Linked DNA regions of Homo sapiens. The protein of the gene in region 4 interacts with the protein of the main gene of each other region in a pairwise test. Each region holds a gene or a part of one and is shown on either strand. Other genes may lie near its edges.

The links.
Region 1: the proteins of ACKR2 (region 4) and SLC13A4 interact in binary tests that used the Homo sapiens proteins (3 or more experiments, as listed by UniProt).
Region 2: the proteins of ACKR2 (region 4) and TMEM167B interact in binary tests that used the Homo sapiens proteins (3 or more experiments, as listed by UniProt).
Region 3: the proteins of ACKR2 (region 4) and EFNA5 interact in binary tests that used the Homo sapiens proteins (3 or more experiments, as listed by UniProt).

Annotation. Positions count from the first base shown.
Region 1 is NC_000007.14:135,717,630-135,725,303, forward strand, and holds part of SLC13A4 (solute carrier family 13 member 4), read right to left. Parts: intron 3,895-7,674; coding exon 3,766-3,894; intron 1-3,765. UniProt on the Homo sapiens protein: Sodium:sulfate symporter that mediates sulfate reabsorption in the high endothelial venules (HEV).
Region 2 is NC_000001.11:109,086,095-109,093,929, reverse strand, and holds the start of TMEM167B (protein kish-B isoform 1 precursor), read right to left. Parts: upstream 3,167-7,835; 5' UTR 3,058-3,166; coding exon 3,048-3,057; intron 2,271-3,047; exon of another isoform or gene 2,182-2,270; intron 1,041-2,181; coding exon 909-1,040; coding exon of another isoform or gene 848-908; intron 1-847. UniProt on the Homo sapiens protein: Involved in the early part of the secretory pathway.
Region 3 is NC_000005.10:107,667,264-107,675,124, forward strand, and holds the start of EFNA5 (ephrin-A5 isoform 1 precursor), read right to left. Parts: upstream 3,675-7,861; 5' UTR 3,351-3,674; coding exon 3,226-3,350; intron 1-3,225. UniProt on the Homo sapiens protein: Cell surface GPI-bound ligand for Eph receptors, a family of receptor tyrosine kinases which are crucial for migration, repulsion and adhesion during neuronal, vascular and epithelial development.
Region 4 is NC_000003.12:42,812,445-42,820,118, reverse strand, and holds part of ACKR2 (atypical chemokine receptor 2), read right to left. Parts: intron 489-7,674; 5' UTR 408-488; intron 1-407.

The DNA.
Region 1 (7,674 bases), on a different chromosome or scaffold from region 4:
TACCCACTGGCTGACAGATCACCACTGTAAAAATGAACCATTTATATGTACTTGTGATGGTTAACTTTGCATGTCAACTTGGGTGGACCATGGGGTGCCCAGATTAAGCATTGCTTCTGGGTGTTTCTGGATGAGATTGGCATTTGAATCAGTGGATTGCCCTCTGCCATCTGGACAGACATCATCCAATCTGTCGAGGGCCTGACTAGAACAAAAGGCAGAGGAAGCAGGAATTTGCCTCCTTTTTCCAGTCTCACCACCTGGGCTGGGACATCTGTCATCTCCTGCCCTGGGACTGGGATCTACACCATTGGCTTCCCTGGTTCTTAGGCCTTTGGACTCACACAGAGTGACATCAGCAGCTCTCCTGGGTCTCCAGCTTGCAAGTGGCAGCTCATGGGATGTCTTAGCCTCCATAATTAATCAAGTGAGCCAATTCCTACACACACACACACACACGCGCGCGCGCGCACGCGTGCGCGCTAGTCTCCTCTTCGTTCTGTTTCTCTGGAGAAACTGCAGAACATATCCAGCTTCAGACAGTGAGAGCTCAGATACGAGATTCAAGAGGGGAGAGATGACATTTTGTTTATTTTTGTCACCCTCAGGGTACCCATATCATCCCATGTTGCACCTGGTAGATGTAGAACTGAGAAAATACTGTCTCTAAATGTTGAATGAATAACATGAGGGAACCCAGCCACAGTCCCAGAGTCACACTGATCCTATTCACGTGCCTTCCTTCCCTCACTGAAGATGACATTACTGACACATTGTCAAGAAACACTGCAATCAAGAGCTGTGAATGAGGGCTGATGCAAACATGGTGCTGGGCTACAGACAGGCCATAGACATAGACATTGTACATCCCAGAGAGCATGAATCTCGGTGGGGAGAGCACATGTCTATGAAAAGTTTATATCTGGTGTATCTGATGCACCATTTAAAAGATAAAGACATGAAATAGGCTCATTGAGAAGGGATCAACACTTTCAGCCTTTGGTCATTGGAAGGGCTTCACCAAAGAGAGTAATTGAGTAGGACTTTAAAGGTCAAAGAACGGGAGAGAACTTTCCAAAGTGGAAGAATAACCCAAGTCGCAGTAAGAGGATGGTCAAGAAGTAGATGGGTTTGGGAAATGACAAGGATTTGGGGGCTCCTAAAGAGCACCAGCCTAGCTTCCCCCTGTGAGCCATGGCACATTCTGGTGTCATAGTGGTGCATAGGTGGTTGTGGAATAGGTGTTTTCTCTGCAAAGTTAACTGGCTTACAAAGGGCTATAACCCATGTGCTCTGCCTTACTGGCATTTCCCTCTAATCTGAGCTAAGAAGGTCAGCTAAACAGACTATATTTGGACTAAGCTGCTCCCTGTAGCCCAACTACTAAATATCATCATCAGCCAAAGCCACGTCATCAGGCAGGTGGATTCGGATTTTTCACCTCAAATGATAAGACGTGCTTTCTGGCTCCTCCAGCCCCTAGCAATAGTGACACACAGTCCCTCCCTGGACAGTCTTCCTTTATTTCTCACAGAGTCCTGTTACCCTCCCAAGCGACTGCCTCTGCAGACTCTCCTTACGGGTTTGGCCTTCCTCTCTGGACAAAGGGGCGTCCCTCGGATAACTGTTGCCTGGCAACATCTCTACTGTGCCCTTGGAGAAACAGAGACACTGTCTGCTTGAAAGCTAAGGCATGCTGTTGGCTTTTGGGCTGCCTATAGTGAAATACAAAGATTAGGTTTCTTAATTAATAGTTTTCTCACTTTAAAAGGTTATTTAGGATTCAGTTCTTTCTAAACATCATTTTTTTTCCTCTACCCTCCACTTTCAAGCCCTGCCCTTGCTGGTTTTAATTTCACAATTTTAAAGAGAAGCCTGGAGAACAAGCTTGTATAGCTCTCTTAAGAAAAGTCACATTTAGGTTGCTTTTTTCTTTAGGCAGACACAAAACCCCATATTACCTATTCTTTTTTCACGAAAGAAGAGGGGGCAATTAGAACAACTGCCTGGTGATTCTGGTCACAGATTAGCTTTTACATGGGTCCCCACGATATTGGGGTTGTACCCATCTCCAGGAATGAAAGCACTGCTGAGAGCTTTGGGGATTCTCTTCTTTTTGGTGAGCCTGAGGCTATGGCTACTCAATGCCACATGTGTGTGTGTGTGTGTGTGTATGTGTGTGTGTGTGTGTGTGTGTGTATAGCCACACACACGCATATATATATGTGTGTACAGATAGATAGATAGAAAGAGGAAGGAAAGAGAGAGAGAGAGGAGAGAGAGAGAGACGGGCCCAGGGGGAGAGAGACAGGGGAGGGAGTTGGGGGGAGAGAGAGAGAGAGAGAGAAAGAGAGAGAAAGAAAGAAAAGGAACCTAAAAGCAAACAAAAAACTAGTCAGTTAAATCTATCCAGTAGAAAGACAAAGTGTTCATTTGCAGTGAAGTACAACTATTAGAGGATTGCCTAATTCTATTTTTGGAAAGTTCTGTTGTCCATTAAAGCATCCATAGGCCCCGCTCCATTCTTCCTCATATCACAGAAGTGAAGAGACTCACAGTTCTAAGTAATAACTCCATGTGTACATAGTGCCATGAAGCCACATACCACTTTATGGAGTCTTTTTCTTATGGTGTAGTGATCAAGTGTATACACTTTGAATTCTAATAGTTACGGGTTTGAATCTAATTCTGCTACTTTCAGCTTTGTGATTTGGGCTGAGTCTCTTAATTCTCTGAGCCTATCTGTAAAATGGAAATACTAGCATGCGCCTTGTACAGCCCTTGGGAGTATTACATAACAAATGCAGCACTTCTGATAGAGTGCCTGGCGCTTAGTAGGCATTCAAATATGAGCTTCCTTTCCTCTTCTTTCTGTGCCTCTGCCCATAACCTTACCCCCATCTCAGTGATTCAGGCTTTTTCATTAAAAAAAAAAAAAAAAAAAACCAAAAACAAAACAAAAACCCTAAGCAGAGACCAGGTGTTAATAATGAGACAGTTGAATGGAACCAGGTGTTACTGAATGAGATCGTCATTCATTTGGTCCCAGGTTCTGGCTGTTTTGTTTTGTTTTGTTTTTTCTTTTTCCCTACTCATGGCAGGCTTAAACTTTGCTCTGAAATTTTGCCACAACCTGGGCTTCCCACTGACAATTTCTGTTTGAGCTTTTGAGAAGGCCACAGACAGTGAATGGAGAGGGCTCACTCTAGGGAGGGCGCAAAGAAAGAAAGTAACCTTAAGTCGGGCGAGAAGAAAAAGAAATGTTGTTTTTTGGAGGCGTGGATGAAAACATTGTCAGGGTTCAGGGAAATAGGGTAAGTCTCTCTGTAACAAACATTCATTGAGCACCTACTGTGTACAGGCTCAGCTTTCTAATGGGAGGTCTGATTCCTGCCTTTGTGTGCTTATCGTCTAAATAGACATCCAGAGTCTGAAAAAGGTCAACAGCAGCTGAGTTTTAGGCATCAATCACACAGCTCCTAAAAGGCTTCAGACCGAGGGAGCAACTGGATGTGTTTAATCAAGTAAGGCTTCCTGAAAGAGGCAAATTTTGAGCCAGTTTGAAGGAGATGAGGATCATGGGTGGAAGGAGAGGAATTCAGGGTCTAGAACTGCAGGTGCCAAAGCTTAGTGTTAAGGGGTCATTCCAGTGGGTGACAAGGCCCCCTCATCGTCAAGTGCTGGGTGAATCTCCCTTCATTGGAGGCTCTCTTTCAGGGGCCCTGCAGGGACCCAGGCAGGGGGTGGGGCTACAAGTAGTCTAACCTCATTGGACCGGAGGACTCCGAAGAACGGGTAAAGGAAGGCCGGCACCAGGGCTGCAGCTCCCAGAGGCACTGCCTCCGACACCCAGTACACAGCAGTCACGATCAGCACGTAAGCACACGAGGCCTCCTGCAAGGCAAGGAAAGGGGCCGTCATTCACAGGAATAGTCACTGCCACTGAGCGTCCGGATGCAACCCTGGCATCTGAGGCAGCAGACTCAGACTGTAACGCGGGTACTAGGATACAGCCCAGGGACCGAAACCGAACTGGCAGGCGAGCATGGTGAATACATGGTGAGTCCATCCTTTGGTGGGTGACATTATGGCTGCTCCTTCGGGGACCGATGCCTGGCGTGTGGTTTGCACTGGTGTGTAGCCAGGCAGCTCGGAGGGTTCTGGAAACTGCCAAGGTGGGGACTGAACTTAACTGCAGTGACCAGACCCATGATCACAAAACCATACAAGTGGAGTTCAAAGCTTTAACTTGGACTGGGATGTAATTGGTGTTAAGTTGACTGGATATTAGAAGTTCTTGGGGTAGTTGGAGATAGGAATCACTATGTGTGGTGGGGGCTGGGGCTTGCACTTGTAATCCCAGGACTTTGGGAGGCCAAGGTGGGAGGATCACTTGAGCCCAGGAGTTTGAGACCAGCCTGGGCAATATATAGCAAGACCCCATCTCTAAAAAATAAAATATAAATTAGCCAGGTGTGGTGGCACAGGCCTGTAGTCCCAGCTACTTGGGAGGCTGATGCCAGAGGATCACTTGAGCCCAGGGGCTTCAGGCTGCAGTGAGCTATGATCATATGCCATTGCACTCCAGCTTGGACTACAGGACTATAGAGTACAATGCTGTCTCAAAAAAACAAGCAAACAAACAAAAAAAACAGTTCGTTCACATGTGAGCTCTGAGATCAGTCATCCTGAGTTTGACACATGTGCCTAAGATATGAAGATATGTGGCATTGGTGTGTGCCTGACTGAAGAGAAGTGGATCAGTAAGAAGTGAGATTTATAAACAATCCAAAAGGTGGCTTCTGGACTGTGCTCTTACAGCCCTGGGCATCTGGGGTGTGTCTCAAGAATATACCAGGGGGATCAGCAAGGCCTGGAATCTGGACCCCCTCTCCAGCCTCATCCCAAATGGAGTAGCTTTGTTCTCATTTGATTCATATACGAACATTACATGTGAGATTTGAAAAAAAAAAAGCTTTATTGCTTTAAAAATGAATAAACAAAGTTAAATCCCCCTGTTTTAGACTATTTGCTGAAACAACTTGATTCAGTAGTAAATTTTAATCAAATAAATTATTAGGCAACTTGAAGAACTGGTTGACCATTTCCCCCTTCAATTTTGGATCTGAGGTCCTACCATGTTTTGCATCTAGAGACTGAATCCTTCTCCCAAAGGCCCCTGTAAGAGTTAATAAGGAGCTCCCTTCCCTGGGAGAGGGAAGGGAAGACTGAAGAGGAAGGCAGCGATCCTGAGCATGGAACTCTCATTTTGGATGAAGAAGCATCAGCTCCTAACTCAGTGTTTGTCAACCTTCGTACTACTGACATTTAGGGCCACATAGTTTCTTCTTGCAGGGGGGCTGTCCTGTGCACTGTAAAAGAGCAGCATCCCTGGTCTCTACCCACTAAATGCCGGTAGCACTTCCTCCACTGTGACAAGCAAAAAACCATCTCTAGACATTGCCAAATGTCCCTTGGGGAGGTAAAATGATTCCTGGTTGAGAGCCACTGCCCTAACCAGGGTCTGGTTCTCGTTGCTCTTGGACTCCATTCTATCCGCTTGACACCATGGAAACATCCATCTACAAAGACTGAAGACAGCCATCTATCTGGAAGGGGAGGCCTGGACATTCACCAGCATTTTCCATAGCCCACTCACTTTGCTGGCTGGACAACCTAGGGGTGCACAGGGTAATTAAGTACAACATTCTTATCAGAAGCCAGCCCTCCATCAGCTTGCCCTCTAGTTGTGTTGATTGCCCTGAATTATGCTGATGAACGCTGTTAAGACAGGTTACCGCCTTACTCTAGGGAGAGGCTGCAGTTCATGGGCCTTGTTAATGGTAACATCACCAAGCTCCGTGACTCAGAAGAGCATTTATAGAAAATCCAAGTTGGCTGTGGGATCCTCAATTTTTACATAGTTGTAAACCATCAGGACTCGTGTCTGATTTGCCCTGAGGCTGGCTGCTGATCAAGGAACCTGACAAATCTTGCTGTTTATGGCCCCTTGAGTTCAGAACACGCGTCCTCAAACTCTTGCATAAAAGTTACAAAAGGTCGCTGTATCAGTAAGGGGCAGCAGGAGTGATTAAATCAGCTGGGCTGGCAAGGACCTTGTGCCCTCCTGACATTCGTGGATTATGGGATTGGGGTTTGAGAAATGGGAACTGGGCCCAAAAGTTGACTGTAGCTCCCCACTGAGATGTTCTCTGGGGCCAAAAGATCAGAGGGAAGATAAAACTTTTGGAAGTGCTGATAAGACAACAGAACCAATGGTGGAAAAAAAAAGAGGCTCCACTTGGAAACAAATTCAATTTAGAGAAATACCCTGTTTGCTATAGAAATAAAACTACCTAAAGGAGTTCAAACCCACGTGTTCTCATCTCTCTTCTGGGAAAGAGACAGAGTGGCAGATCTTAACTCCAGTTGAAGAGAAAGAGTTGAGAGACAAAATGTCTGCCCCTCACTGGGGACCCTTATTTCTTCCTGGAACCCTTAGTCTTTCTTGATCTGGTCATTACAGGGCTACAAGTTACAAGTTAAGGGGAAGGAGGTGGGGAGAGAAGGTGCAGAGAAAGGGAAAGGAGAAAGAGGAAAAGAGCCTGTAATCCCAGCACTATGGGAGGCCGAGGTGGGTGGATCAGTTGAGGTCAGGAGTTCGAGACCAGCCTGGCCAACATGGCGAAACCCTGTCTCTATTAAAAATACAAAAAATTCATCCAGGTGTGGTGGCACATGCCTGTAATCCTAGCTGCTCTGGAGGCTGAGGCAGGAGAATCCCTTGAACCCGGGAGGCAGAGGTTGCAGTGAGCCAAGGTTGTGCCACTGCACTCCAGAGCCTGAGTGACAGAGTGAGACTCTGTCTCAGAAAAAAAAAAAAAAAAAAAAAAGAAGAAAGGAGAGAGAGAGAAAGAAAGAGGACTTTCCCTCTGCCAGGTGCCTTTAGTTTTCAATTAGGAGAATGTGGGTAAAATAAAGCAAACATTTTGGTTGTAAATATTGTTAGACATGCGACTAGGTTACTGGAAGAAGTAAGTCATCAGGCCACCTTCACCCAGCTGTATTAAGGACAGGATTAATTACTATCATTTTTTACCTGGATTTTCCTTAGAGTAGAAGAATGGACAAGAGACACCTTTAGAGAGTCTTTCCATACAGTTTCCACTTATTTCACCCATGGAATCTCCATAAACTTCATTTTTCCCCTTCTAAAGCTTCCCAAAATTCAGGAGGTAAGCTTGTATTCAGACAACCAAAAATACTGCAAAGTTTGCTTACAAGGAGTCCGATGTCCCCAACGCCTATCCCATGTCTAGCAGGTGGTTCAATTCACGTGGGCTGAACTGCACTGGACTTCTCTGCTGGCTGTCAGGTCTCGCTCATCTTCTGGAGAGAATATTCTGCAACCCCCAGGCTCTTTAACAACACCACTGGTTCCTTATAATAGCAGGTATGTGGGGGTTGGGCATTGGTGAGTGTTCAGACAATATCTTCAAGGGACATGCTATCTACTATTTTTTGGCTCCCGTTTACAAGTAAAGGAAAGAGTTCGAAAGTGGCATTTCCCCATGTAGGACGTTTCCTAGTCAGCTACTCACTTAGGCGTGGAACTGCTCGTTTTCCACGCAGTTTGACCACCCCAGTGATATCCCACTCCAACTTCACGGGAAG
Region 2 (7,835 bases), on a different chromosome or scaffold from region 4:
CCTGACCTTGGGTGATCTGCCCTCCTCGGCCTCCCAAAGTGTTGGGATTACAGGCATGAGCCACCGCATCCGGCCTCTGAGATGTTTCTAAATGCTATCCTTATGCTTTAGGGTCTAGGTGAATATACTGTTTGTTTATATTTTGTCCTTTTTCAAAAAAAAATTTAGGTAGATAGGATTCCAAATGAATGTGCCTCAAATAAAAAGTACAAAAAAGCATCTGAGTTAATTAACTCAAACCTTAAAACAGACTCCAATGTACCATTTACAGAAAATCAAGAAAAATTTTCCGTAGAAAAATTTTTTTCCCACTGAAGGGAGGAATTCCACCCCAGCCTAAAATGATTTGATGTGTATACTTTTACTCCATGGAGAATACAAAAATCATCTGGATGCTAAAATAGACAATTATGTTTTTAAATAATTTTTTTTTTTTTTGAGACAGGGTCTCACCCTGTCACCTGGGCTGGAGTGCAGTGGCTCCACCATGGCTCACTGCAGCCTCAACCTCCTAGGCTCAAGCAATCCTCCCACCTCAGTCTCCTGAGTAACTGGGACTACAGGCACGTGCCACCATACCTGGCTAATTTTTGTATATTTTGTAGAAATGGGGTCTCACTGTGTTGCCCGGGCTGATCTACAACTCCTGGACACAAGCAATCCTCCTGCCTTGGCCCCCCAAAGTGCTGAGATTATAGGCATGAGCCATCACACCCAGCAAATTTTAACTTTTACCTCTTCCCTCAACTTTGGAGAATGATTAATTTTCCAGACTCTCAGACCCAATCGGAGGGATTTTTTTCTAAAAATGAAACCAAATATAATCCCAGCTCACTGTACTCCCTACTTTGTAGCTCCACACTGTCCAGAGATGGCAGTCTCTTCTCCCTGTCCAGACATGGCCTCACCTTTGTAAAACACACCCCAAACACCCTTCTTCTCTGATAGCAGCCAGGTTTTGAGACGAGGTACTTTCTTGAAGTAGGCACAGGTGCAAACAAAGAGCAAACCAAACACCAGAATCCCATCCAAGGAGTACACTGTTAAATAAAGAAGAAAAGAAAACCTTAGGTACTGATCTAGCGTCGGACCTGTGATCCCGCCTGAGAACTCTAAGGAAGATAGTGTGTGACATAATAACAAAATAATAACCTCAACAGGCAGTACTGACACTTGACAAGGGGGAGCCAGGATCCTGGGACTAACACGATTATTTTACTGTTCCCAAAAATTGCTTGTAGGAGGAAGGGGGATCAATTGAGCCCAGGAGTTCGAGGCTGCAATGAACTACGATCATGCCACTGCACTGTAGCCTGAGCAACAGAGTGAGACCCCAACTCAAAAAAAAATTTTTTTTTTTACATCCCCTTTACTAAAATGTCACTGGTCCTTCCCCTCACCTTTCAAGAAGTAGAAATCCTGGGCAGAAATTAGCATCCCAGGAATGACTAGTGTTGGCAATAGATTGAGACATATGAATCCTTAGAGACTCAGCACAGAGAATTTAACATGTTCTTGTTATAAATCACTCATATGATAAAGGAGAGCTAGATATGTAGCCAAAACTGTCAGATGTGCAACTGTTGGTGAAGAATATGTTAAGGCAAAAAATTAAGCTTAATGAAAGTTGCAAGAGTAAGAATCCACATGACTACAATTTTCCTATCATTATCTTACACTTTATGGATGATACTCTTAACAAACCGAATTTCTGCCAGAATAATAACAGATTTTTCTAAAACAAAGAAAAAGTATCTAAGGCTTCAACATAGAAAGCTTTAACTTCTTAGCTCTGTTTCTTAAATACATAAACCAAGCTTATTTCTTGTACAGGGAAGCACAATGAATCACCTAATTGCAAAAAACAAGAAGATATTGGACCACAAAATGGGGGAAGAATGACTAAAATTTATTCAGCAACTACCGTGTCAAACTGCTGTCTTACTTCCTGGTTCAGATTCTGTCTTCCTCTGGGTAAATTCCCTTTTCTTACTGTGCCTAGTATCCTGAGACCTCTGACTTCCCAGGAAGCTCCAAATGAATATTATATATAACCAGTGTCTGCCAGTTCTAGATCACACTACCTCTCTTCCTCCAGTAAAACTGTCTCACAGCTAAGCTGTCACTAAGAAAGGGTCCAGCAAATTAATACATACACTAAGGTTTTCTGAGGAACTATACCTTCACGTGCTACCCCTTTTCTCTCATAAGTTTCTGCAGACAATGCCAAAATTCACAAGGAGGTTAAATTCGAGTCTTCAGTGCCAGGTCTATGGACAAAGTACTTTTGAGAAATGCTTTCCGGAGCCCCTCAAATCATCGTAATGCCTAAAAGGCTTTCTCTTCTCCTTTCCTGTAAGGTTGACACTAAAAATCATGAAGGCCCTCCTTCCTGTCCTCCTCTGGAATTCAGAATTCATAAAGTGTTTGAAGAGGCCTGGAAAATTAGGTCAGATAAACTGCCTCATCATCTAGAAGAGGCAGTGTCTAAATCCACCCTTTGCAACACTAGTCAGGGTCTCCACGTGGGATCACCCCGCCAGGACTTTAAAATCAGAAATCTTTCCGGTATTTTTCCGTAAGAAGAAGCTTTTGTGGGGTCTACATTCACCAGCAACCCCAAAAGTGTGGGACTTGATATTCTATGTCATTTATTGGCCCTCTCAACAAAACTACGGTCCGAAAGCATGAGAACGCAGGGAGCTGGGAGGAGGAGCCTCTCTCTTCCCCGGGTTTAAATAGCAGTAGTACCTCTGGGACTGACCTCTCCAAGGGCCAGAAAGAACTAAGAAAAAGAAAAGGGAAAGCAAAGCATAGGGATAGATAACTCGAGGTGTGAGCATAAGAGGCACTGGGGGTCCTAGATGAATATGGGAAGGGGGAACCCGTAGAGGAGTATAGGGGTACAGAAGTTAGGGGCGTCGAGAGGCCAAGGGGGGCCGGGCTGGGAGGGGGCGGGGAGAACGGCCACGTCAGTCCCGGCCCCGCCCGCCACGTTTTCCCTTCGTCCTTCACTCCCACCCTCCGCTCAGGGCATCAGTTCTCACCGTTCGTCATGGCGGCTGGCCCTGGACCTGGGTAGGGGGTCCGGGTTCAGTGGTAATAGCGGCGGAGATGGGGGAGCGCCCGCTTGACACTTCCCGATCCGGGCCGAGGTGACTGGAAGAAGCCGTAGTACGCAGGAGCAAGGGCCGAGAGGCGAGCGCCGAACGCTATCAGGAGTGGCTAGCCGATTGTCGAGCTCGGGAAACTGCGTGTTTACGTAGGGTAAGAAGAACGCTATCTCGAAGGCTTCGTACTTGGCCGTGGTAACTAAGTCTTTTCTGCGTGCCCCTGCGGGCGTAGGGCTGGGGCTGGCCCGCGTCAGTGTGTTTGAAAAGGTAAAGGCTTGTAGTTTTGTAGTTTATTTTGCGCCGTGGCGGCTGCTGTGTGTAAGCAGCAGCCTACCTATGAGGTTTTCATCGTCCTGGGCTTCCACTTGAGAGAACTCCAGCACCGCGGGTGAAGAAGCCGCACCTGCGGCCTCCGTGACTGCCCTTGAGCTGCTCTTCCTTACTCCGGATGGAAATCTAGTCAGACTGCGTCTGAACGTTGCAAATGAAATGAGGAACCTTGTAACAAAAACAAGTCGCGGCCGGGCGCGGTGGTTCACGCCTGTAATCCCAGCACTTTGGGAGGCCGAGCCAGGCGGATCACCTGAGGTCGGAGTTCGAGACCAGCCTGACCAACAAGGAGAAACCCCGTCTCTACTAAACATACAAAATTAGCCGGGCGCGGTGGCTCATGCCTGTAATCTAAGCACTTTAGGAGGCCGAGGCAGGCGGATCACCTGAGATCGTAGTTCGAGACCAGCCTGACCAACATGGAGAAACCCCGTCTCTACTACAAATACAAAATTAGCCGGGCATGGTGGCTCATGCCTGTAATGTAATCCCAGCTACTCGGGAGGCCGAGGCAGGAGAATCGCTTGAACCTGGGAGGCGGAGGTTGCGGTGAGCCGAGATCGCGCCATTGCACTCCAGCCTGGGCAACAAGAGCGGAAACTCCGTCTCAAAAACAACAACAACAACAACAACAACAACAAAAACCAAGTCGCATCTTTCAGATCCTAAAGCACCACGTCGTCGGAAAACATTCAAAGGGTTGCCCGTTTGCTTGTGTGAATTTTTCTTTTCCTTAAACTATCAGGAGAATCTCGATTCTCCTGCATTTAATTAATGCTGGGATCACTTCAGCCACTTTAACCAGAAATCGGCGATATCTAGACACCGCTTCTCTGAGGACACTTTGACAACGTGACAAAAGACATTGCCAGTCTAATGATGGGGGTGGGGTGGAGGAGACAAAAGTACAGATTCAGATTTGCATACTGAAATCCTTAATTGCACACAACTCGGCCCGCTTTATTAGAGTTCGGGCGGAAGTGCGACACCGAGTCCTCCAAGGCTAACTGGAGGGTTAAATTATACGGTTACTAATCCGCCGTGCTTGTCAAGGGCCTAAAGGGACTCTGCCCCTTTCTGCTGCAGTGCCATCTGCTGGCTGCAGCCTGCTTGGTTACCCAGAGGGAAAACTGCCAAAGCATCCTCTGGAAGCTGGCCTGGAAAGACAAGCCAAAGTCTAGTGCAGGACAGATGCCTTGAGAAAATATACATACATGCAGAAAGAAAAAAAAAAAAAGACGGCGTATATACGGGACAAAACCTAGGACAAGGCCAGGCAGCCACTCAGATTATATATATGTTTGCACATTCACACACAGACAAATTCCCCTGCCCAAAAGAACTGTTCAGGACCACTCAAAAACAAAACAGAACAAAAGCTCTATTGTTTAGGCCTTCGAATCCTTCATCAACCATTGTCTAAAACAGCAGCAGCTGGCCGGGCGCGGCTCACGCCTGTAATCCCAGCACTTTGGGAGGCCGAGGCAGGCGGATTACCTGAGGTCAGGAGTTCAAGACCACCCTGACCACATGGTGAAACCCCGTCTCTACTTAAAAAAAAAAAAAGAAAAAAGAAAAAAAGAAATACAGAAATTAGCCTGGCATGGTGGCGTGCGCCTGTAATCCCAGCTACTCGGAAGGCAGAGGCAGGAGAATAGCTTGAACCCGGGAGGGAGAGGTTGCAGTGAGCCGAGACAGCACCACTGCCCTCCAGCCTGGGCGACAGAGCGAGACTCCATTTCAAATAATAATAATAATAATAATAACTGCCCCCCTTTGGCCGGGCGCGGTTGCTCACGCCTGTAATTCCAGCACTTTGGGAGGCCGAGGTGGGCGGATCACCTGAGGTCGGGAGTTCGAGACCAGCCTGACCAACATGGAGAAACCCCGTCTCTACTAAAAATACAAAAGTAGCCGGGCATGGTGGCACATGCCTGTAATCCCAGCTACTTGGGAGGCTGAGGCAGGAGAATCGCTTGAACTGGGGAGGCAGAGGTTGCGGTGAGCTGAGATCCTGCCATAGCACGCTAGCCTGGGCAACAGTGAAACTACGTCTCAAAAAAAACAAAGAAAAGAAAAAAAATTGCCCCTCTTGTAATCCTACAGCCATCACCTTAGTAATTTTGCTATATCGGTAGTCTTTAAGTATCAATTATGTCCTCACAACAATGAAAACTTACATTTTTATAACATTTTGACATTTTCAAAGCAAACACACCTTGTCATATGATCTTATTTAACCCTCACAACTGCCTGATTACCCCTGTTTTAGAAATAAACCAAGGTTTAGGGTAAGGACTGCCAAGTATTACACTGGCACAATAATTCCAGCCTTCTGAAATCAGGACTAGAAAATTTTCCTCCATACCACACTGGTGTTTCCTTTGACAGCAACCACTACCTACTGAATAATGCCTAAGTCCTTAGCCTGCTACTCAAGGCCTTCCAATAGTATTTTCCACTGTTCCCTATATGGGCTTTAAGCTTTGTCTATAAAGACTATGTTCTTCAGTTACAGTCTTTGCTTTCTCATTTTTGCTCATGCCACTCACTTTTTAGAGATAATTTTTTCTCCCCATTTTTTTTTAACTAGATGAAAACCTCTTCAGTTTTTGTCATACTCTGAAAGACAAGTCTTTCCTCTTCTGTCATTCTCAGAGGTTAGAATAAAAGTTAATCAGCTGGGCGCAGGGGCTCACGCCTGTAATCTCAACACTTTGGGAGGCCGAGGCGGGAGGATCACCTGAGGTCGGGAGTTCGAGACCAGCCTGGCCAGCATGGTGAAACCCCGTGTCTACTAAAAATTCAAAAAAATTAGCCGGGAGTGGTGGCAGGTGCCTGTAATCCCAGCTACTCAGGAAGCTGAGGCGAAAGAATCACTTGAACCTGGGAGACGGATATTGCAGTGAGCCGAGATTGTGCCATTGCACTCCAGCCTGGGCAACAGAGTGAGACTCCACCACAAAAAAAAAAAAAAAAAAAAAAAAAAAAAAAAGTTAAGCCCGGGCGCAATGACTCACGCCTGTAATCCCAGCACTTTGGGAGGCCAAGGTGGGCAGATCACCTGAGGTCAGGAGTTCAAGACCAGCCTGGCCAACATGGTGAAACCTTGTCTAAAAACACAAAACTAAAAACACAAAAATTAGCCGGGCATGGGGGCGTGAGCCTCCAATCCCAGCTACTCAGGTGGCTAAGGCAGGAGGGAGAATCGCTTCAGACTGGGAGGCGAAGGTTGCAGTGAGCCGAGATTGTGCCACTGTACTCCAGCCTGGACAACAGAGTGAGACTCCCTCTCAAAAAAAAAAAAAAAAAGAATAAAATGTAAAGGCTGGGCATGGTGGCTCACACCTGTAATCCCAGCACTTTGGGAGACCGAGACAGGTGGATCACTTGGGGTCAGGAGTTGGAGACCAGCCTGGCAACATCGTGAAACCCTGTCTTTACTAAAAATACAACAATTAGCTGGGTGTGGTGGTGTCTGTCTGTAATCCCAGCTACTCGGGATGCTGAGGCAGGATAATCACTTGAACCGGGGAGGCAGAGGTTGCATTAAGCTGAGATCACGCCACTGCACTCCAGCCTGGGAGACAGAGCAAGACTGTGTCTCATAAACAGAAAAAAAAAATTAAGGATGAAATCAAAGCTGAAAAACCAGGAGGAGTGATGAATTGGCAAATTACAATTTTTTTTTTTTGAGACAAAGTCTCACTCTGTTGCCCAAGCTGGAGTGCAGTGGTGCAATCACTGCTCACTGCAACCTCTGCTTCCTGGGTTCAAGCAATTCTTCTGCCTCTCCTCCGGAGTAGCTGGAACTACAGGCATGCGCCATCGTGTCCGGCTAAGTTTTGTATTTTTAGTAGAGATGGGGTTTCACTACGTTGGCCAGGCTGGTCTTGAACTCCTGACCTCGTGATCCGCCCGCCTCGGCCTTCCAAAGTGCTGGGATTACAGGCGTGAGCCACCACACCCAGTGGCAAATTCCAATTTTTATTTTATTTTATTTTAGCTTTGAGACAGAGTCTCGCTCTGTCGCCCAGGCTGGAGTACAGTGGCGCCATCTCGGCCCACTGCAAGCTCCGCCTCCCAGGTTCCCGCCATTCTCCTGCCTCAGCCTCCGAAGTAGCTGGGACTACAGGCGCCCGCCACCACGCCCGGCTAATTTTTTGTATTTTTAGTAGAGACGGGGTTTCACCGTGTTGACCAGGATGGTCTTGATCTCCTGACCTCATGATCCACCTGCCTCGGGCTCCAAAGTGCTGGGATTACAGGCATGAGCCACCGTGCCCGGCCTCAAATTACTATTTCTAAAGGGCAGTGATAATGCACACAGTATCTTATGATTAAACAGTTTTCTTTTAACTCCACTCAAAATTTACTTTTTCTTCATTTTCC
Region 3 (7,861 bases), on a different chromosome or scaffold from region 4:
CCTATCCAATAAATACTACCAACTAAAAGTTATCAGCATTTGAAAACTCAGTATCCACTTCTCAGAAGTGAATACCTGGGTACATAGATTGTAACAGTAAAACTATTCTGACAGCAAATAAATTTAATATTTTTTCCCGTGAAACTACATCTATAGATGCTCATTTATCAATGGAGAGGCAGTAATGAAACTCCATGTAGAAGATAAACTCCTACCAGATACACAAGTGACACAAGTTACACAGTAAGATACTGTACTTAATCCCTGTGATCAAGATACATTTAATTCTGATTTTACCTAAACATAATTTCAAATTGAATCTGTTAGTATAAGCTAAAGTAGATTTACTTCGTTTAGACACAGTGTACATTATCATCAGTTTAACGTGCCCACTGAACATATTATATTCTGAGGGAAAAATAAAAAAAATTATTTAAGTTGCAATTAAAGTCCTCTATTCTTTTTTCAAAAGATTGAAGTCTTACTAGTTTAGCAAAATTTTAACAGATAGGTTCTATATAAAGACACAAAGCATGGCTAGCTTACTTTATGAAATAACATACAGGAAAAGGAATTGCACAACAGTGAATTTATAAAATTTACTAAACCCGTGGAAATTTTCTGAAATATTTTCTTACTATTGTTTGTGGAAAACTGTTAGTTTTTATTTTTAAAATACTTATTTGGCATGTGGCCTCTTATATCCAAGTTGACTTTTCTTAATGCATCAAAAGAGCAACATCTTATTCAACACTTCAGAGATAAAACTGCCTACTTTTAAAATATTGTTTTTAAAGTAAGTTTTTAACTGTGATAACATACCAAGATAAATGTGTCCATAAATTCCTAAGAATAATAAGTGTTAGGGCTGTATCTCTTGGGGTTAAGAGGGGTACATCATTCTTTCTTTTGGCCATTATCAAACTGATAATGATCAAATAGAAAGGTAATTCTACAAACCTGAAGTTAGAATACCGATTTAGAAATACTCTTGGTATTTTAAAATTCTGCAGATTAACTTTGTCTGGGCAGGTTCAAAGCCTCCATGGCATCCTGAGCAGAAGAGTTTTCTGCAGGCAGGGCAGATCTATTAAAAAACATGACCTGTGACAAAAATCAATGTGCTAATCTCAAACCAAACAACAGTATCAAAAGCACAAAACAGAGATAACCTAAGATAAAATGTCCTCAAACTAACTCAGACTAGCTTGACAGGTTAAGAAGGGGGGTTAAAGTAGGGGTGTTGCTGGTTCTTTCCGTTTTAACCCAGGAAGACTGGAACACCCAAGTATCCAAATAAATGAATGCCATGAGAAAAAGATCACAATGTGGAGCTTGGTGTGGGAAAGAAAAGACAACCGAGAGCAAGATATCCCAAATTCAAAGAAACTATTTCAGTGTTGCTTTATTTAATAAGGTGCTAAAGTTCAGAGATACAAATTTCTGCTTCGTATATGCTGCCTAATAAAGCACAAACGGGGAAAAAAAACTAACCAACATAATGAGACTGGCTTTTAACACCATCACAACTGGAAAGCTTGCTCTATTTGTCTTGTCAGCTTTAATAAAAGGCATCTCTCCTCTGGCAGGATGGCTTCTTTTTCTCTTTTCCTAATAGTGGTAAGTGGCATGTCAAAGAAGAAATCGCTTCCCATTCCACCACCCACCTCCAGGAGACTCTTGTTTTTTGAACCAAACTTTCAGGAATATCTCCACTCCTGTTCAGCGGTTCATTTAGGACTTGGGCGGCTACCTGAGTAAGACTATCTTGGACTAGCGGGATAGGGGGAACTCCCTCCTGGTTCTGTAACCGGCGGACTGCTTGTGGGGAAATCTTCCCATCTTCATCTGCGCTGACATTATTCAAGCAGGGAATCCCTCTCTTGCCTGCATGCTGAGGGGAGGCTGGAGGCAGGCGGAGAGGGCCCGCAGGAGATAGAAAAAACTGGAGGCGCCCACCGATACCCTCTCTCCTGGAGCCCGGGGCGCGCACCAACTCTTAGGCTAACCCCTCGGCCTCCCGCCTCTCTCTTCCCAACTTCCACTCCAGCCCAGTGAAAAACCTGTGACTTTAGATGCAATCGGTACTATTAATAAATAGCACCTAGGAGGGCACCGAGACCGGCACACAGCTGGAAGCTAGCCTCTGTCCCAGAGAAAGCAGTGCGGTATGGGCCTAGCGGGGCCGACTTCTGTGCACAGGCCGGGAAGCAATAAAGGTTCGGAACTGCTCCAGACCCGGAGGACCCCGCCGGGCACTCTGGATAACCTCCCCACTCCACTTCCAGGGTCCGAAAACACGGGACGTCTGCGACTGGCCGGTGTCCAGCACGCGCACTAGGACCGCCCCCGGCGCCCACCTCTAGTCTCCCGCATACCCGGCGGGCTTCGGGACGCCTACAAATCGGTTCCAGGTAATCGCGCGCGTTCCTCCGGCAGCACATCGCCAGGCCGCGGGCGAAGGGCTCCCACCTCCTGGCTCGGCCAACTCTGGCAGCTTGTTCTGCACACATGACGTAACCCGGCATTAGATCAAACTTTCTGGCACCTTGAACCCACTGGGGTGGGTGGAGGGATGGAGAAGATGGGAGAATCCTCTCCACTGCCAGGCGCGCCGGGCCCAGACTGACTCAGGGGCCGAATGATTTCCTCGCAGTTGAAGAGGAAAATAAAAACCTAAAGCTTCCGCTTCCCAGCCCCCCTCACTTCCCCCAGCCCGTGCGCTCTCTCTGCGCGCACCGGGAAAAGAGAAGGGAAAATTAAAATTAAAAAAAAAAAAAAAAAAAAAAAAACTTTGGGGGATGTTTGGCGGGTTCTCTCCGCAGTCCCTGCGGACCCACGCTCCAGGAAGGAGCTCCCGGCTGCGCACACTGGGGGCTCCCCGCGCCGGGAACCGGATGCCAGCCAGATGCCGGGGCTGGGAAGCAGAGAAGTCCCTACTCCCCGGCTCCCGCCCTTTTCCGAGTCTCCCGGCGCCCCGCAGAAGCAGTTGGTCTAGGCAGCCCCGGGGACTCCCAGGGGTACCTGGCCTTTCCGCGGCGGCTTAACAAAGAGGGGCGCGACGCGAGCGCTTCCCGCCGACGCCTCAAGCCATCAGCGCCCGGGCGACGCAGGCTCCGAGGGTGCGCGCCGCCAGCGGTTGGTGCGCGCCGATCCCCGCCGCCGCTCCTTCCGCAGGGCCCCGAGGCCCGGGTAGCCCTGGCTCTCCGCCTGTTATCGGCTTACCTGGGGTTGCTGCTGTTCCAGTAGACAGCGTAGCGGTCGGCGACGGCCTTGGAGCCCGGGTCCTGGCTGAACACACACATCCAGAGCACCAGAAACACCAGCGTCAACATCTCCACGTGCAACATCACGCCTGGCCAGCGGCGGAGCCCCCGACGCGCCACTCCGGGGAGAGAGCGGGGATCCGGAGGGAGGGAGGCAGGCAAAGGGACAGAGAGAGAGCGGGCGCCAAATAAATATGAATAAATAAAAATGAAAGTGGGCGAGAAAGGAAAGAGGCGCCCACCAAGCTGGGGAGGGGTAGGAGAGCGAGAAGAAAAGAAGGCGGTGGGATGGGGGGTGATAAAGACAAACTCGCACCCCCACTGGAGGGTTCAGGAGGAAAAAGGAATCACAAGATGGAGAGAAGCGTGCGTGTGTGTGGTGGCGGCGGCGAGGGCGGGGGAAGAGGTGCCAAGCTGTGTCTCGGGCGGCGGCGGCAGGCCGGTCACCCCGGGAGAGGGAGGTGCGCGCCGGGCCGGGCGGCTGCAGCGCGGGTCGGGGCAGGCGGCGGCGCGCGCTGCACAGTCACCGGGAGTTGCGCGCCGCAGCCGCGGGGAGACATACACCGGCCCGCCGGGCCCGGCTCAGCGTCGGCGCAGCAGGCTACGCACGGCTCCGCCACCGCCCGGGGCCCTCGCACTGCGCCACGCTTCGCTCCAAGTTACTTTGGCGGCCGGTGGGAAACTGCAGGAGAAGGGCGACGTGCTGATAGAGGGCTTCGCGCTTGTGGTCCCGGGAGTCTGAGAACCCCTTTCCTCAGCCTCCTCTGTGCCTTAGCGGGGCGACCCCCAGAAATCTCAGAGGAGTCGTAAGTGCTGCGGTACCGGGCGGTGCGCCGAGAAGGGTGGGGATCCGGAGCCGCAACCCAGCCTTGTCGGTGTCCTGGAACTGGTTAAGCGGCAGCTGCGCCGGCTTTCGAAGCGGTCTTGCCTCGAAAACCTCAAAGAAAAGTTTGGCTCTTCGCGTCTTCCGGCAGGTCCCCCAGCAGAGTCGGAACGCGGCGGTAGCGGAAGAGGGCACCCCGGGGGCTGGCCGAGCCTCGGGGATTTCTCGCGCGTGCTTTCCTTGGCTGGGTGTGGGTGCACCACAGTGAATGAAGAGCAGAGGTTAAGACCAGCCGGCCTGGCAGAGCTGGGATTCCTAAACCTGCAAGACGACGCCAACCCAACTGTTCGGCTGGAGAGCGGGAGGGGAAACAATCACTTTCAAATGGATCCCTCCAACTCCTGGATGGGCCGATGTCAGTCTCCGATCGCCTTCCGAGAGGGAGACTGAGCCCCCACACGCGGTGCCAAGAGCCCGGGGTGAGCTCTCAGAAGTGTCCCTGCGACTCCAGCGGGTCCAAGCCTAGCAACTTGTAGAGATGCATCAATCAGTTTGAAATGGGAAAAGAGGAAAAAAAAAAAGCGCACGAGCGAGTGGCACCTCCCCGATGACTACATCAGAAAACCTTCCCGATCCTCCCGCAGCTGCTCCTCTTTCCCTCCTTAGGCACAGCAGCAACAGAGGTGAAAACCACAAACCGAATCCTAAAACCCCTACCCAGGCGGGAAAATAAATAAACTTGAGTGCAGCAGCAGCAGCACGAGCAGCCCAGGAGGAATTGAAACGACTGGCAAGAAGTGGAAAGGGTTTTGTAAAAGTCAGTTTTGCAAAAGAGGGGGAAAAAAAGAGAGCGAGAGAAAAAATGCTTTATGGGAAAAAAAATCTCCTCGGGCACGCCCCCTCGTTAATGACTTGCGTGGAAAGCCGACAGCGGCGGCGACCCAGTGGCAGCAGCCTCAGCAGAGCGCGAGGCCGCACGCGTGAACGTGGACGTGGGCGGGGGGATGGGGCTCCGCCCGGGCGTGTTGCGCGGGACGCGGGACGGGCGGGCGGCGCGAGCGCGGGTGTGAGCTCCGGACGAAGCAGGGGGAGGTGCCGCCAGCCCGCGCCCAGCCAGCGCTGCTGCCGCTGCGGCCCGGGTCATGTGGACTGTCTTTTTTTTTTTTTTTTTTTTTTTCCTCCTTCCAAGCAGTTTACTTGGGAAGGGTGGGAGCGCGGTGGGGGGATAGCTGGAGCAACCAGTCAGGGAACGGCCTACTGTTTGCTTACAGATTGGGGGTTTTTCCTCTCTCTTTACTCCAACCGGATTGGTTTGCTCCACGAGAAAGAGGCGTTTTCCTAATCTCCCTTCCCCACGCCTCCTACCCCCTCCCCCGCCCCACCTTCTAGAAACCTGACTAATTGAATTACTGGGAGTGCCGAGGCGCCCTCTCCTGCGCCGGAGCCCGGCAGCCACGTGTAACCCTTTGGGTGCTGAATTCCGTCTGGGCTAAGGAATGATTTGACATCTTTTTACCTGGGAGTAGGGTCTTTCGATTTTAAAGGAACCTGTGCCCACCCTTTGGCTGGAGAGCCGGCATCTGTCTCTGGTGCCCCGCAGGTGACGGATGGGCTGGAACGGAGCCTCAGGGAGTGCGCGTTCCTGTCCATTCCACCCGCTCTCCACGCCGCACGCTGCCTGGCGCTGGGTTATCTGGAAGTCTGAGCACCCCTCCTGTGCCTTTCAGCCCTCCTCTTCCCACTTGGGATTTAAAGATTCTTGGGCAGGAAGCAAGTTTTCTTTAAAGTGATGCTCTGAAAACACGTTTTTAAAAATCAGGCAAATCACAGTTTAAAGTGATTACAATTCAGCGCGAACCTTCCACAGAGAGGAAATGAATGCGGCAGACGAGCCCTTCAGAAATAACCTCACACCTCTTCCATTTCAACCTTGAGGGTGATTTGCTGCCCACTCCCCAAAGAATAAACGCCTTTATCGAACCCGGTGCGGAAAGAAATGAGGGCCGGGGGCGGGGGCTGTGGGAAGAAAAGCAGTTCCTTTATTGTTGGAAAAGGCCCCTCGGTCCTGGACTTCAAGGGCAGGTTGCAAGCCTGGTCTTCAGCCGCCACTGAAGAGCGATCTCCTGGCAGCGAGACTGTCCCAGCGCCTCGGGACGCGTCCCCACTGTCGTCCAGCGCCCAGGAAGTGAGCCCGACGCCTGCTCTGCGGGGCCACAGGCCCCCGAGACCCGCCCTTAAGGGGTCCGCGGGCTCGGGAGCAGCGGTATTTTTTCTCATGTTCCCTAGGGAGTTTTCTGCCTTAGTGGGAAGGGCAGATCCCCAGGAGAAAAAAGGCAGTTTACTTTTGCTCCCACACCTGCCTGCACTCCTTTTTACTTATTAGCCCAATAAAATCAAATCTCACGTTCACCCTCCTGCGCTTTCCAGTCCTCAGACGGGATTTCCAGGCGCTTCAGAGCTGTTTAGAAGCGTCCAGACGCCCTCCAGTGGTGGGCCTGCAATCCGCACCCAGCAGGGGCATTGCCTGCCGCTCAGGCCGGGTTGAATTTGATGGGAAATCTAGGGCTATGACCAATAAAGACTCGAGAGGAAAAGAAACAGTTCATAGGGGCACGGAGGTACCTGGATGTTATGGGCTCTTGGCTAAAAGTTAAGTCGTTTTTCAATTACAGTAATATTTCCTATCTGAAAAGATCCTGAAATCGTCCTAGGAAAGTAACTTATATTTTGTGACTAGATACAAATTGCAATCTGTACAATAATGGACTTTACCACAAACCAACCATCTGCCTAATTATTAAAAATTGAAATTCAGAATGTCGACACAAATGCTCCTCCATCATCTGTATGTTTCACAAAGTTCCAGCAGTGAGAAAGAAGTGGGGAAAGAAGTGAGAGAACCAATGGATAAGCTTTTATTTTTCAAATCAAATTTTCAGTTAAAATGTTATTTGCTTTTTTCCCTGGTCTGTAATCTTGCTGATGTTCAAGTTCTTGGCCCATTTTAGGGTGTGTGTTTTTTCTGTTGCAGGAAAGATGGATTTGTTTCCTTAGCTTTTCTTATAGTGGCTCTAATAGGTGCTCATATGACAGAGACAGTTTTGCAGGAAATATTCTGGACCCTTTTAAGAGATATGTGTATCTTTAAAAAGAAAATTCACGACTCCTGTCTAGGGTAAAATGCTGATCCTCACTGAAGAGTCTTTTTAGTCAGGGAACTATCAGGTAACAGGGAGCTAGCAAGCTGGCTTCCTGTGGCATCAAAGCTGAAAAAAAGGTGAAGAAAAAGAAATGGTATCCACTCATTTCCCGTTTGAAACACATACAATAACCAAATGGGAAAATTCAATTATATCACAAAAATATGGATGTCCTTATATTTAAATATCTCTACTATTTAAAGTTTGAATAGTCCCATATTAAACAGAAAAAAAAGTATACATTGTCCTCTTCCATAAAGTGATTCATAAGATTGGAATAAGATGTTGAAATTCGCGGCTGTTCATAACATAACTCAAATGTCTATGTGAAACAATTCATAAACCTAAATCAAATGACTCTGGGATTATGTGCCTAAGTAATTATTGGTATGGAAGTTACTAGTCAGCAGGATGATAGATACAGTAAGTCCTTAATGTCAGGGATATGTTCTTGGAAATTGTGACTTTAAGCGAAGTGGCATATATAAGGAAAACAATTTCACCATAGGCTACTTGATACAAACAAGAGTTAAATTCCTATGCATATCTCCGGTCACAAAAACATCACCAAA
Region 4 (7,674 bases):
TACATTTATGAGTCCTCAATTTATTATGCAATCAAGATAAACAGATGGTGTCTCATAATCAGTATGAGGGCAGAATGACTTGGAGAGCTTGGAGATGAGCCAATAAAAACCTGTTTGCAGTGCCATTGAGTGTGGCAGTGCCTCCCAGAAGAGGTACCTCATTCTCACAGAATTAGCAGACCATAAAAACAGCCCTAATATTTGGGAGAGACAAAGTGAGGGAAATCAGAGAGGCAGTCAATATTCAAGGAAGTGCAGGAGGAGAAAGGGGGGCTCTGAAAGGAAGACTGTGTAAATGGTGGGTGAGCAGGAGGGCTAAAAAGCCAGAAGGGCCTGCAGCCCCTGCCTAGCTACTGCAGCCCCAATAGCTGAAAATGCAGCCAGCATCATTGAACTCAGCTGCTTACCTCAACTTTGCAGAGAGGCAGCCTTGAGTAATTCAATCAGTACTGACTGGAGGGCTCCTGTGTGCAGGTCACCAACAGGCTCTGTGGGCAATACAAAGAAGGACACAATAGAGGTTCTGCCGCCAGGGGGGTTGTAACCCAAGGTACATGCATAATCATGGAACTCAATATCATACCGTGTGCCAGGAAACAGTGAGGGAGCCCAGCTCTTTTCTACTGGAAAGAGCCAGGAAACAGTGAGGGAGCCCAGCTCTTTTCTACTGGAAAGAGCCAGGAAACAGTGAGGGAGCCCAGCTCTTTTCTACTGGAAAGAGCTGTTTGCCTGTGGTCAAAAGAAAGCTCTTAGTTCCAGTGATCAATGTTGTTTTGTGTAATCTAGTCCCATACTTATACAAATATAGATTATAAAAACAAATCAATCTTTTTAGTTACATAGAATTACATAAAATTATGAGTTTCTAACTTTAAAAATCAGGATATAACCCACATAAAACTGAATATTATAAAGACCAAAGTCTTCCTACTCATTCTCTACTAAAAGACATATTTAATAACAAAATATATGCAAGATAAAGTTATACAGACTTTTAAGAGGTGATGGTTGTGTTGTTAATCTCAAATTCAAAAGTCTTCAGAACAAGTAAAAGAGGCAGGAGAGCTTCGGCTTAGTCAGGAAAATTCTGTGCCCACCATCCCACCTGCCCCCCATTTCCCCCACCAACACCCCAGCAAAGAACTAACAGAAAGAACAAAAAGGAATTTGAGGAGCTGCAAAGAATCCAAGATCCATTTTTTAGTGACAACCTGACAGCATTTTGTTTGAAAATGTTGTCAGTAAAAACAATCTATGGGCCAGGTATGGTGGCTCACATCTGTAATCCCAACACTTTAGGAGGCCGAGCCGGGCAGATCACCTGAGGTCAGGAGTTCAAGACCAGTCTGATCAACATGGCGAAACCTTGTCGCTACTAAAAATACAAAAATTAGCTGGGTGTGGTGGCACTTGCCTGTAATCACAGCTACTCTGGAGGCAGAGACAGGAGAATTGCTTGAACCCGAGAGATGGAGGTTGCAGTGAGCCGAGATCGCGCCACTGCACTCTAGCCTGGGTGACAGAGTGAGACTCCGTCTCAAAAAAATTATGCCAATGTCTTTCCTTATTTGATCTGTTTAAGTGCTTTCCTGTGTAAATGATCCTCTCAACATTACTGCTTGTAGGAAGCAGCCAATTCTGGGCCAGTTTGCTCAGAGCACATCACTATGAAAGTGAAAACTCAGTCTCATGTCTGCTGTAGCTCTTCCCCTAGATCTTCATAGAGCTGACCCCTGGTCATTCAGTTCTCTGCTCAGATGTCACTGGCTGGATGTGAAGAAAGGAGGAAGTGGCATCAGGGATTGACCCAGCTTTCATGTTTGGTGAATGGGATGGACAGTTGTTCCATCAAACACGTCAGGGAATTTAGGAGAAAGTGCAGGCTTGTGCGGAGAGAGATGTAGAGAGCAGAGAAGAGGGGAGGAGAGAGATGGTTAACACGGCTCATTTATGGACACATGGAGTCTGTGGAATACCAAAGTGAAGACGTCCAACACAGTTGAATAGATAGCTCTGGAACACAGGCAAGAAGTGTGGCAGACAGAGGAGAGAAAAGAACATCAGCATACAGATGAGAATAAAAAACCATAAAAGTACATGAGATTACTCTAAGAGAAGGGCAGAGAGTAAGAAGGAAAGAGAGCACAGAACCCTAGAGCACACCAATATTTAAGGGACACAGGAAATAAATTCAGTCACTGTAACTAAGAAAGAATGACCAGACTGGAAGGAGAATGAGAAGAAGAGTGTCAATGGAAGATTCATAATGTCAAATATGATAGAAGAGTCAAGTAAGATATGGGCTGAGAAACTGAAATATGTCCATTGAATTATGTCCTTTACTATTGTTGTTTCAGTAGCGTGACAAGAATGGAAACCAGTGGGTTGAGAGAGCTGGGTTGGGGGGAAGATGTGGGATGATATGTACACTTTTTTCTCCTAAACTGAGGAGAAAGAAAAGAGAGCAATAGCTGGAGAAAGGATGAAGAATCTAGGAAGGAATCTTTTTTAAATGGAAGAGTATGAGAAGCCTGGATGCAGGGGCGAGGAGAGGCTGAAATTACAGGTGAGAGAGCAAAAAGCTGACAGATTCAATGGCAAAAAATGATGGAATCCAGAGCATAGGGTTTGATGGGTGTTCAGTGGGAGGAGGGTACCCAAAACCAGAAGAAACGACTGATGGAGACGCAGGTAGGGTAAGAGAGGAGGAAGCTGAGAGAATTTTTCAATGCTCTCTGTGAAAACGGTTAGTGGGGATATCAGGGGAATGGAAGTCGAGGCTGAACAAGAATAAATGAGAGAATTGATTTAGAGAAGGGGTCAGAAAACTTCACGGTCTAAAAAAGAAAAGTGACTTGCTTGAGGTTGCATTGCTGGTTAATGCTTAAGAAGATAGCAGCAAGAGGAAGGGGCCTGGTTTGGTGAGAGGATCTAACATGTACTGAGGCTCTATTACATCCCAAGCACTCTTCTTGGTGCCTTATGTATGGTCACTTAGATCACACAATGCTATCCTATAAGGCATATACTTACTAGTATCCCCATTGTGTTGATGAAAAATGTGAGGCTAAATAACGTGTTCAAGGTCATAATGTCCATAAGCATTTAAGCTGTTATTCAAAGCCGTGTCTTTTGACTTCAGGCCTGGTAGCAATCCAGGGGCCCAAAGCCAGTGCCTTTTCCACTCTACCAAATTTTTTTTTCATTAGTACTTGTTAAGTGTCCTGCTGTCCCCAACAGCAATAAAAAATACTGAGTGCTAGACAGGCATGGTGGCTCACGTCTGTAATCCCAGCACTTTGGGAGGCTGAGGTGGGCAGATCACCTGAGGTAAGGAGTTTGAGACCAGCCTGGCCAACGTGGTGAAACCCTGTCTCTACTAAAAATAGAAAAAAATAGCCAGGTGTGGTGGCAAACACCTGTAATCCCAGCTACTCGGGAGGCTGAGGCATGAGAATTACTTGAACCCATGAGGCAGAGGTTTCAGTGAGCTGAGATTGCACACTGCACTCCAGCCTGGGTGACAAAGCAAGACTCTACCTTAAAAAAAAAAAAAATGAACTGAGTGCCTCAGTTCATTGACTTTTTCCACTGAGTTTCCTCAGCGGAAAAGTCAATTCAAGACTAAAATATTTAAAGTATAATATTTTTGTTCACTACAAAAATTATCACTACATAAACACACAAATCCTGCTGCCACTTTGGTTGCTAATGGGAACCAGTTGATGAAACCAGCAATATAAAAGGTAAGACACTATGTAAACTAAAGAGATCAAAGGTGGTTTCTAGCTCCTAGCTTCTTCTTTGCTGAAGTACACCATATTGATGGTGAGCATCTTATATTTATGATTTTTATGGAAACCCTCAGTAACCAAAAGACATTTTAAAATGCAAAGTACACACACACACACACACACACACACACACACGAAACTATCAATTGTGTTTATAGGTTAGCTGAGTAGTATCTACAGGAACACACAAAAAAACCCACAGAATGTCGTAACAATTAACACATATAACACTTACTATATGCCAGTTAATGTTGGGGTTTTATATATCATTTAACACTCCCCAGAGTCCTACTAAGTAGGACCTATTATTGTACAAATGAAGAAACAGAGGTACAAGATGATTAATTAACTTGCTCAGTGTCACATAACTAGTAAGCAGCAAAGCAAACCCCAGAGCCTGTGGAGCCTGACTCATACCAAATTAAAAGTGGCTGTGACTTTTCTCCCTCTGGAGAGTTTTGAGCTTTCATTTTAGAGCTGTTCTTCCTAAAGGGTAGAGGAATGAACCAGGTACCTCCCTTGAGAATTAATGTTCTGGAATGCATAAAGTGTGAGAAAGAAAAATTGTCACCTTAGCAGAACATGGTCGGATATGATGCCAGCTGGTCCTTCTGGAAAAATATTAGTGTTTCTTATAAAACACCTGATAGATTTGAATAAGCAGATCAAGGAAGAGTCTGGTTACTTTTTGCCAAGAGAAAATTTTTTGTTTACTTAAAAGCTCCTACCTTTTAGGCAAGTTTTAAATACAACTTTGAAACATGCAATTAATGTGTCTGGGAAGTGTATTTTTGTCTAAAATGAACAGCTTAAGTACTATTCCATGACTCTGCAGTGTAAAGGGTACTAAATTGGAACACATTATGAATAGCCTGTTAGGGCAATTTTCTGACATGGAATCTTCTGATGGCCTGGCCCCTAGCCAATTCTCCCTGGGGACTGGTCTTTAAAGATTATTGCTGCCTCAAAGTGGCAGTCCTTGTCAAGAAGTAGAGATAACACTACTGCATGTAACTACCTCTACATCCTTAAGACCAAGGGGAAAATGGTCTCAATACACAGTATGTAATGGGTTATTACTGAATAGTTTTAAATTTTCTGGCTAAGGCTGACACTCCCTTTCTAATCCATTCTATTTCACTTCCAATAACCTCAAATGCCCTCTGCTCTTGTCAACATCCTGCTCCAACGTCTTCAGGCGGCACCTAATAGAACATTGTCCAGGTTCTTTAATTAACATGGAAGGTCCTCCCCACAGTGACTCACTTTTCATTATTCTCTCTGACTCTGCTCTAGTCACAAATGTTTGCCTTTTCACACTTGCTGTCCTCTGTGACACAGCTACAATCCCAGAGTCTGCCTCTATTCTTCTGCCCTCTGTTTGCTGTTTCTGAAATATCCTCCCAATTTATTTACATCCTAGTCATCCTTCAAGGCCCACTTAAGCCCCAGTCCCAAGAAGCCTTTGAAACTGCTCCACTTACTGTGATATCTACCTGAAATTTCATTCAAAGTACTTATAAACTGTCTTTGTTATTTCTATATACTTGTTCCTTCTACCTACTTAGATTATAAATTATTTCATGGCAGGGACTGAGTCTTTAAGTTCAGAATCTAGTACAGGTACTTGGCACAATGTACGTATTCAATAATTGCTGATGGTGACTCCCAAATCTGGTATAAAAACACCGGTAATTATTACCAATTTTCTCAAAAGGTTTAACCTTTGTTTAAACAAAGTTCGACAAAGATCACACAGTACTTTTTAAAAAGGATGTCAAGAACAAGGTAATGTAGCTTTTAGTTGGGCCTCAGCATAAACAGACATCTGAATTTAGAAGCCTGTTTCTCCTATGGAAGATACGATCATGTGTAGACAGCTATTTGCAGCATGAAAAGTCACAGAGGCTCTCTGAAGAGGGGAAAATAGCAAAGCTGGCAGACACTTTTTGTGCTGCCTTTCTTTCTATAAATTACAGGTGGGTTGGTTTAATACCTGAAAACCCAAATAATGTGTTAAGTCTTCTGCATCAATTATACTTCAAAATGACGCCCAATACGAAGAATGGAATAATAGATGTTGCATGTTTGTTACCAATTATAATGTCTGTATTATGAAAGATGTAAGTGTGTCATTGTCATTTTCTTGTAACATGATATGGTATAAAGTGTAGCAGAATAATCTTCACCAAAAATTGACTGAATCATCTGATTATGTTTCAGATATTTATCACCATCATTCACCAAGATTTTAGTTTCTGCATACTAATCAGAAGGAGAGAATTTCTCCCACAAACAGGCAACAAAACCTCAAATAACTAGGCATAAACAGATGTTGTCTCTCGTTATTACATTAAGTTTGGGTAAAGTGTGAACTTCTTAGAATTTGCAAGGAGAATTCAAGTTTCCCAGAATGAGACTGGGGTCATTAATGATACTGCGAAAACTTAAAAACAGCTCACCATGGAACAAATTCCATCTATTCCTCAACAGAGCTTGAAAAACAAAATACAACTTCCTAATAAATATGGCAGTTTTCAGTCTTTATGCTGTGAACCAGTGAAGTATGCACATGATGCAGAAAATAATAAAGGCACATTGTACCAAGTTACAAACTCTTGAATTTGTATGATATGGTTTGTGTCCCCACCCAAATCTCAAGTCAAATTGTCATTCTCAGTGTTGGAGGAGGGGCCTGGTAGGAGGTGATTAGATCACGGGGGTGGACTTTCTCCTTGCTGTTCTCTTATAGTAGTTCTCACAAGACCTGGTTGTTTAAAAGTGTGTAGCACTTCTTCCTTCACTTGCTTTCTCCTGATCCCACCATATAAGACAGGTTTGCTTCCCCTTCATCTTCCACCATGATTGTTAAGTTTCCTGAGGCCTCCTTAGCCATGCTTCCTATACAACTTGCAGAACTGTGAGTCAATTAAACCTCTTTTCTTTATAAATTACCCAGTCTCAGGTAGTTCTTTCTAGCATTGCGAGAACAGACCAATACATATATTTTTAGAATAGATTATGTAGGGCAAACTGAACCAAGATTTTAAGTTAATATTAGATACTATAACATACTTATTTAAAAACAGATCAAAATCAAACCCAAAAACAAACCCAAAACATACTATAGCTCTTGGACTAATTCTTATTTGCAAATTATCTTGCTTTCGTTATTCATATTTTGTCCCAAAGGCCCTAATGCTAAATAAAATAAAATAAATTATGGAGCTTTATTTTAATCAAATTCAATAACATTAACAGCACTGTTCACATTAACATAACTGTCTAAATCAATCACTTTACCACATATATGATTAGAACCAAAAGAAAGCTGAAGGCCGGGCATAGTGGCTCATGCCTGTAATCCCAGCACTTTGGGAGGCTGAGGCAGGTGGATCACTTGAGGTCAGGACTTTGAGACCAGCTTGGCCAAAAAGGTGAAACCCTGTCTCTACTAAAAATACAAAAAAATTAGCCGGATGTGGTGGCACATGCCTGTAGTCCCAGCTACTCAGGAGGCTGAGGCAAGAGGATCACTTGAGCCTGGGAGGTGGAGGTTGAAGTCAGATGAGATTATGCCAGTGCACTCCAGCCTGAGCAACAGAGTCAGACTCCATCTCAAAAAAAAAAAAAAAAAAAAAAAAGGCTGAAAATTGCCCAACCACTTTTATTAAAGGTTTTCAGTTTTAAGCTGCATGGAATACTAAGAGGTCTGATTCCATGACCTGGAGAGGTAAGCAAGCAAACAGAGCACTGGGCTAGTTCTCAGGAAGGCAGAGTTATTCAGATTCTGCCTGTAAGTGTGTCATCTAAAACATCCACTTACATTCTCAAAAACTGTATTTTCATTAAAAGAAAGGAAATGGACTAGATGAGCTTT